Homo sapiens: one gene and its partner. The protein of the gene in region 1 interacts with the protein of each later gene in a pairwise test. Each region holds a gene or a part of one and is shown on either strand. Other genes may lie near its edges.

The links. The genes of interacting proteins can lie anywhere in the genome.
Region 2: the proteins of SGTB (region 1) and CDH15 interact in binary tests that used the Homo sapiens proteins (3 or more experiments, as listed by UniProt).

What each region holds. Positions count from the first base shown.
Region 1 is NC_000005.10:65,720,419-65,724,164, forward strand, and holds the start of SGTB (small glutamine-rich tetratricopeptide repeat-containing protein beta), read right to left. Parts: upstream 1,692-3,746; 5' UTR 1,499-1,691; intron 412-1,498; 5' UTR 390-411; coding exon 290-389; intron 1-289. Other genes in the region: NLN (neurolysin, mitochondrial), read left to right, coding at 1,956-1,996. UniProt on the Homo sapiens protein: Co-chaperone that binds directly to HSC70 and HSP70 and regulates their ATPase activity.
Region 2 is NC_000016.10:89,169,778-89,173,523, reverse strand, and holds the start of CDH15 (cadherin-15 preproprotein), read right to left. Parts: upstream 1,777-3,746; 5' UTR 1,693-1,776; coding exon 1,651-1,692; intron 1-1,650. UniProt on the Homo sapiens protein: Cadherins are calcium-dependent cell adhesion proteins. They preferentially interact with themselves in a homophilic manner in connecting cells; cadherins may thus contribute to the sorting of heterogeneous cell types.

The DNA.
Region 1 (3,746 bases):
CTAACATAACAGTTGCTGTGAAGAAAAAATTGCCTATAATATGAACAGCATACTTCTGACATATAGTATTTGTTCAATAAATGAACAATAGTCCTCTTAATTTGTTGTTAAAACAAACAAAACAAGCTTCAGAAAATGGAAATACGATAACCTTATAGTCAGGCCTCTCCTCTTGAAAGATCAAAAAAAATTCTGATTATGTTACAATAGATCATCAAGTTGGGCTTACAGCTATTTTAGTCTTCGTTTATAATTATAATATAAATGAACACAAAGAGCAGATGCATACCTTCCAAACTTTCTTGTTCATCCGAGGTGTAAGTGTCCATCTGACTTTGTTCCCGTAAGAAACGAATAACTGCATAAACCAGGTGCTTGATAGATGACATTTTAGAAGCTTAAACACTTTTCCTTGATAAGAAAAATGAAAACACTGAACTAAGTTATTTTAAAGAATCAGTCAGGAAAGTCATAAATTACAAAGATGATATGGGTTATAAAGTGTATTAAAGGTAAAAACAAAACACAAAACTGTATGACCTTTCATCTTTTCTCTTTGTAAAGAGTCAGGAGAGCACAAAGTATTGTGAAGGTAATTTATTACATATTTTCATTAATACCCAGTGGTATACGAGTATGTTAAATCTTGGAATAAGTAAAAATGTCTTCAAAACATGTACAGCATAAGCTTAGACTGTCACTGCATATCTCACCATACAGAAATCCCCTAAAGGCCTCAGTACTAAGTTAAGAGGCATTTCATACTGCTGACTAAAAGCTGATGTATACCAAGCATCTTCCTCTTTTTCATGGGATCTAAAAAAAGTATTAATAATGTACACTCTACCCACTTTTGTAGGTTGAGAGTTATTTGATGAGGAAACACATTCGCGAAAGGTTATTCAAGTGGTGAGTGTCGTTCTTAATAAAAATGGCATTTCTATTTAATCAGCAGACATGTCAGGAAATCGCTGCCCAAGTCGATGGATACTACAAGCCGACCGGCGCTCCCTGCAGAGGCTGTGCTCTCGTGGACAAGCTGGAAGCTCCCGGTCATGTTCATTCACATGGAATACTATCGCATCCAAACAGTGGCGCAGGGCCAGGCGGCATTCATGGCTGATTTCCACCAAATCGCATCATCCATCTGCTCCCCAGGTTCCCTAATTCAAAGCCAGGGTGTGGTACCCGCCGCTATAATGTTTATTATTTGTGTAGTTATTTTAAAGGCGATGTCAGCCTCTAGGCCACGGGGTCATAAGCACTAAATAAGGCCCCAGGGCAGAAGGTAAAAACAGAATGGGGGGAAAAGGGGTGAGAAGAGGGAAATAGGCTTCTCCCCCTTCCTCTCCCCAGAGCGCATCGAGCTCCCCCTCCCTTCCGTCCTCCCTCAGGTACCCGGCCTCGCCTCGGCCCTGCCCGGTGTGCAGCGGGTGCCGGTGCGGGCCCCGGTCCGGAGCGGCGGGAGGCGCACCCTTGCCAGACAGAAGCCCCTTACCAAGCAGGAGGACGCGAGACGACTGCTGCTGGCCCGCGGGGTTCCGTAGGCAGGCCCGCCCGACCCCTGGTCCTCGGGGCTGGAGCCCGGCTCGGGATCGCAGCACTGGTCGCGGCGGCGCAAACTTCCCCGGCCCCTAGGCCGTAGACCCCAGAACCCACCAGGCTGTGCTCTCTCTCAGGCGGCAGGGTCTGGCCAGCACCGCCCCTGGGGCGGGGCCGGACGCGAGGGCTGGGGCGGGGCCAGACACGCGAGCTGGGGCGGGGCACGGCGCGGGGCGGGGCTGGTAGGCGCCGGCGTGGAGCTGCCGCACGTGGGAGGGCGCTGGCCAGGCAGCCACTGTGGCCTCTGCGGCTAGGCCGGCTCGAGACTCCCGGGCGCCCAGGCGCTGCCGCCCGCCTCGCCGCCCCACGCCGAAGGACCACGCGCCCGCCGCCGCCAGCCTCTCAGCGCTCCCATGATCGCCCGGTGCCTTTTGGCTGTGCGAAGCCTCCGCAGGTACCTCCAGCGCGCGGGTTAACCTTGGCCGTGGGCAGGGCGGGGTCTTTCGCCGTGTGGTGCCTGGAGCCCGGACCCACCCCTTCCCGACCGCGCCTCTCCGACGCTCCCGGGACGCACCCTCCCCGCGGCTTGCAAGGTGGACCCCTGGGGGACACCTGGCGCGGCCACCTGGGGCCACCTTTCCCGCCTCCGCTCCCTCGGGAGGACGTCCATTCCTCTTTGTTTGGGACTGCCTCAGCCGCAGTCAGCGAGGCTGGTCACAGACGCGGCCCAAAATGAATGCAAATAGTTTGGATAAGAAAATCATTTCACGTTCAATCCCAATGCAGAACTACAGACCTGTCATTAAAAGTGCCGCAGCTGTGGACTCAGAACAATTGTGTTTGCTCCTCGCGCCCATTATTAGCATTCCAATCGTTTAACATCCACCCGAGATGAAACCTCTTTGGTGGTGTTGCTTGTTTCCGTCCATGCTCTCTGACTTCCTTTTTTATTTTCCTCCTCCCCATAAAACAAACATTCTGCCTCTTGCCGGTGCAAATTGACTTGGCCCAAAATGGAGAAAATGATCGCTTGGACACGGCTTTGGGCAGCCTGAGCTGCTGTTTTGGATTGCTTCCTAGCCCTCTAACCACACCCCACTGCAACAGACCAGTAGCAAGATGGTGAGGGAATTAAATTCTTTGCACGGATGCGCTGGTTTTCGGAAACAATGCCGCCACCATCCCCGTTTCCAAATCTGCCCAGAACTGTAAATCCAAATGAAGATTCAACAGAATAAAGAAAATGTGTGCTTCTTGCTAGCTATCAACAAAACTACTTTGTAACATGTCAGCATTTAAGCTTTCTACAGTTCCCTTTTGCACATTGCCACTCGTCTGTGTGGATGGAGCTTTGTGTTGCTCAGTCCGTAGAGTTAGGGAGCAGGCAGGCGACAGTGGTTAATTACAAAGAGTTAATGTGGTGATTGGTGACCATATTTCAGCCTGTCGTTTTTTGCTAGTCTCCAGGCTGCAATCGATATAGCTGTCAAATGAAGTTATACCAAGAAATGAAGACTTCACATAATGCAGGGGTGAGAGGAGGGAATAAATCTTCATATAAGAGCAATTCTCGGCCGGGCGCTGTGGCTCATGCCTGTAATCCCAGCACTTTGGGAGGCCGAGGCGGGTGGATCACGAGGTCAGGAGATCGAGACCATCCTGGCTAACACGGTGAAACCCCGTCTCTACTAAAAAATACAAAAAATTAGCCGGGCGTGGTGGCGGGCGCCTGTAGTCCCAGCTACTCGGGAGGCTGAGGCAGGAGAATGGCATGAACCCGGGAGGCGAAGCTTGCAGTGAGCCGAGATCGCACCACTGTACTCTAGCCTGGGCGACAGAGCAAGACTCCGTCTCAAAAAAAAAAAAAAAAAAAAAAGAACAATTCTCAAACTTTTTATTCTCAGGACCCCTTTACCTTTCAAAAATTACCGTGGACCTAAGAGCTTCTGTTTGTGTGGTATATCTGTCTATATTTACCATATTAGACATTAAAGCTGGAAAAAAATTAAAGTAGTTGTTAATTTACAAAACTAATAAATAGGCTAGGTGCATAAATAGTGATTTTAATGAAAAATAACTATTTTCCAAACCAACCCCCCCGCCCCCCAATCAGTGAGAAGATTAACATTGTGGGGTTTTTTCCCTTTTTTTTAAAATTGTGGTAAGATATAACAAAATTTACCATTTTGATAATTTTTAAGTGT
Region 2 (3,746 bases), on another chromosome or scaffold:
CACCTCCACCACCTCCCCCAGCCTCCAGCTGTCGGGGGAGGGGGTTATTGTCCCCCAGCCCTGGGCGAGAAAAGAAGGGACAGTGAGAGGGAAGGCTTCTGAGGAGGGAGAGGTCCTGCCTGCCTCCCCACCTGCCACAGAGCCCCCTGGGGCCTTTTGAAAGGCAGACACTCCCAAATCCAAAGGAAGAGGTCTGGAGGAATGTTTTCACAGGCGCCAGCCTCCCCACCACCATGCCCTGGGTTGGGGTGCCAGGGAAGAAACCCTGTCCCCAGAGCAGGTGGGGAAGGGCCCTGGAGGCATGGAGCCCCCCAGCCTGCGCTCCCCGGCAGAGGGCTGAGGGGTGGAGGGCCGGGGGGTGAGCACGCATGCTGAGCCACTGTCTCCCCCCACCACTGTCTCCAGATGGGGGAGTCGGGGGTGGCAGGAGCCGTGGTGCCCTCAGGGGCAGCTGCTGGAGGGTCTGGCTGGCCAGGCGCCTGGTCAGCTGCCAGGGGCTGAAATTGGAGCCAGCTGGAGCTGGGAGGCCTGTGGGAATGAGGGGACTCAGGAAGCCCCTTCAGTGGGGGCTGGGAAAGGAGTGGCTTCCCTTACTCACTGTGTCCAGCACTCCCTGACCACCCCAGGACCACAAGAGCAATGAATACTGTGAGCACCGCTAAGCCCTTTATGTGCATTCTCTCTCGAATTGGCCAGAGAGAGGCTGCCCTCTTGTACCCAGTGACGTCCCAACCACAGCCGGCCATGCCCCAGCCCAGCCCAGTCCCTGGGGGCTGAAGCCACTGAGGCCACATCCTCCATGTCTAGGTCCCCCTAGGGTGTGAGGAGACGTGGCTCCAGCTAGGCAGTACCCATGTCGGGTGTGGGGGGCTGAGGCCTGGGCTTCCTTCCACTCTGGCTTGCTCCCACGTTGGAGAGACCACGGTGCCAGCAGTCCAGACAAGATTTTTAGGGGCAGAGTCCAGCAGCCTCTGGGGGCTGGGCCCCCAGGCCTGATCACCCCAGGCAGCTGCGGCAGGGTCCCAGGTGAAGCCCAGGAACAGAGCCCCCAGGGCTGCCACACGCCACTCTGCAAGGCCGTGTGTTGCGACCTGGCTCGGGCTGGGCCCTCCCAATCGAGAAGTAGCCGTGAGGGTGAGTTCCTGGGGGCAGGGCCTGCAGCCACCCCTGCTGGCCAGGAACTTGGGGTGGGGGGTTTGGACAAAACCCAAGACTAGCCAGGGGTCCTGTGCCCACCGCAGGGAGTCCCTATAGAAACCTGGCCCCCAGCCCCCCAGAGAGGGGCACTCCTGCCGCTCCCCCCTCTCTCTGCTCCACTCAAGACTGGCAACCCCCAGACCCCGGCAGCGGTTCCTCCAAAGAGAGGGCACGGCTACCTGGGTGGCCCCTGCCTGGGGTCCCTGACCCCAGCAGCACTCTGCAGTCCTGGGGGTGATTCCACCAGATGGAGTGTTTGGTTACACTCACTCCCCACAACCCCTGGGGTGCTGCCCCCAGCCCAGGGACCCACCCGGAGCCACTCCGCTCACAGGCCCCCAAAGGCGACCAGGGCCAGTGGTTCTGGGGGAGACCTGTGCGGCTGCAGTTGAAGACACTGTCCCGCAGCGTCGAGGGAGGCAGCGGGGACCCCCGCAGGTGCCGATGCCTTACCTGGGCCAACAGCCCGAGGACGAGGAGGAACGCGGCGTCCATCGGGGCCGAGGCGGGAGCCGGGCCGGAGTGCACCCGCGACCCGAAGAAGCGCGTCCAGGCTGAGTGACAGCGCAAGTGCGCGGGGCGGGCCAGGGCCAGAGACAGAGACAGCACGTGTGAGGGGGGCGGGGAGGGGGCGGGGCAAGGGCTGAGTGACAGCACGAAGGAGGCCTCTGACGGGCCGAGGGCCGGCCTGGGCAGGGCTAAGGCTGAGTGACAGCGTGTTGGCAGGCGGGTGGGGCGGAGCCTCTGGCGAGCTAGGGCGGGGCGCAGGCTGAGTGATAGCCCGTGTGCGAGTGGGGCAGGCGGGGCGGGGCCGGGGCCGAGGGCTGAGTGACAGCGCAGGTGCGCCGGCGGGGCGGTGACCGCACGAGGCTGGTGGGGCGGAGCCAGAGGAGGATGGGGCGGGCGGGGCGGGGCCGAGGGCTGAGTGACACCTTGTGAGAGTGCGGGGTGGGGCCGGGGTGGGGCCGGGGCGGGGCCGAGGGCTGAGTGATAGCTTTTGCGGGGTTCCGGCGGGCAGGGCCAGGGCTAGGTCGGAGATACCCCGGCTTGCTGCGTTGGGAGCAGAGCCAGAGGCCAGGCTGTGGGGAAGGCAGGGTGGGTGCGTCCGGGTCAGGGACCAGCTGGGATTCCTGGCTTCTTCATTTCCTGCTCCTTGGGCCCGGCTCGCCCCTGCTCCAGGGAATCTGCATTGTAGTCCCTGCCGGGGGACACCTCTTGAGCACTTCCTTGGGCCCCTCGCCTCTCTGGCTGCGTCTCCTGCGCCTCCCCGCATCCCACTGAACGCTAGGCCCGCCTTCCACGCACCTCCTCGCGACCTCATTTTGCCCAGCTCTTATTCAGTATGGAACTGCTCTGGTTCACACGCCTCTGATACCAGCGTGGCTCGTAGGACACCCCCAATTCCCCCAGTCCACGCACCTCCTCCAGCATCCCCTTGTTCCCCGAGGCCCCCTGCCTGGAGCACCTTCCTTCCTACAGAACTCCTTCTCATCATCCCTCAACACCCAAGGTCAACGCTGCCGCCTCCTGGAGCCTCCTTGCCACCTCGGCCAGAAGCCCTCCCTCCTGTTGACTGTGGCACCTGTTCTCCCCTTCGAGACCCCGCCCCCTGGGATGGTGTGGGTGTGGCTCAACACCTGCACAGGCCCAGCGCACGGTCAGGAAGGTCCTGGAGAGGGGGTGGAGGGGGCTGGAGGCAGGAGGATCCTTTCTTTTGAGCAGGCAGGGTGGGGAGTGGGGGTTGCCGACCAGCCCAGGGCCGGGCCGGGGAGCCCGTTCCTCTCTGTGATGGGAGCAGACCCGGTACCTCTGCTCTCCTGTCGACGGCGGGTGGCTGTGCAGGTGCAGGCAGCATCTGTGCACTTGGCCTGCTTGAAAGGAGGCCAGGCTGCCCGGGAGGCTCAGGCCAGGACTGTCCCTAGCGCTCACTGCTCCAAGATGAGAGAGGGCAGGGAGTCCATCTCCAGACTGGGAGGCCTCTGGGGCTGGGGTGTAGCCTGTTGGGGACCACCATCCTGCCTCTGTGGTCAGTGACCTCAAAATAGGGGTGGAGAAGCCCTCTGAGTGCTTTTGGTTTTCATCCTCACGGGACTAGTGCAGGGGTGAGGTAGAAGTGCTCGCCCTCCCCCCAGAAAGAGGTCTGGGGAGGCTGCGGTCTGCCAACCCCAGCTCCTCTCCGCTTCCACCCTGCACCCACCTCGCTTCAGCCACCTGCCTCCCACCCACCTCGGGGAGAAACGGAGGCCAAATCCCTCCTCCATGGGATGTGGGGGTCTCTAAGGGAAAGGCTAAGCTGGGCCAGGTCCTGGGTGAGCCCCAAATGCAGGGCGGGGCCAGGGAAGCAGCCGGCTTAACCACTGCGGGAGGGTGTGCTCCCTGGCTGGCGGGCTATCCCCCAGGGGCAGGTGCCCCCGCGAGGGACCCCGCTCCACATGCTCCCAGGGCAGCAGGAAGGTCAGGAGGCAGGAGCCTGGGTCCAGTCCCAGCTCGGAGCCTTGGGCTGGAGGTTCTCCCCCGTGCCTCAGTTTCTCCTTGTGTCAGAGGTAGGT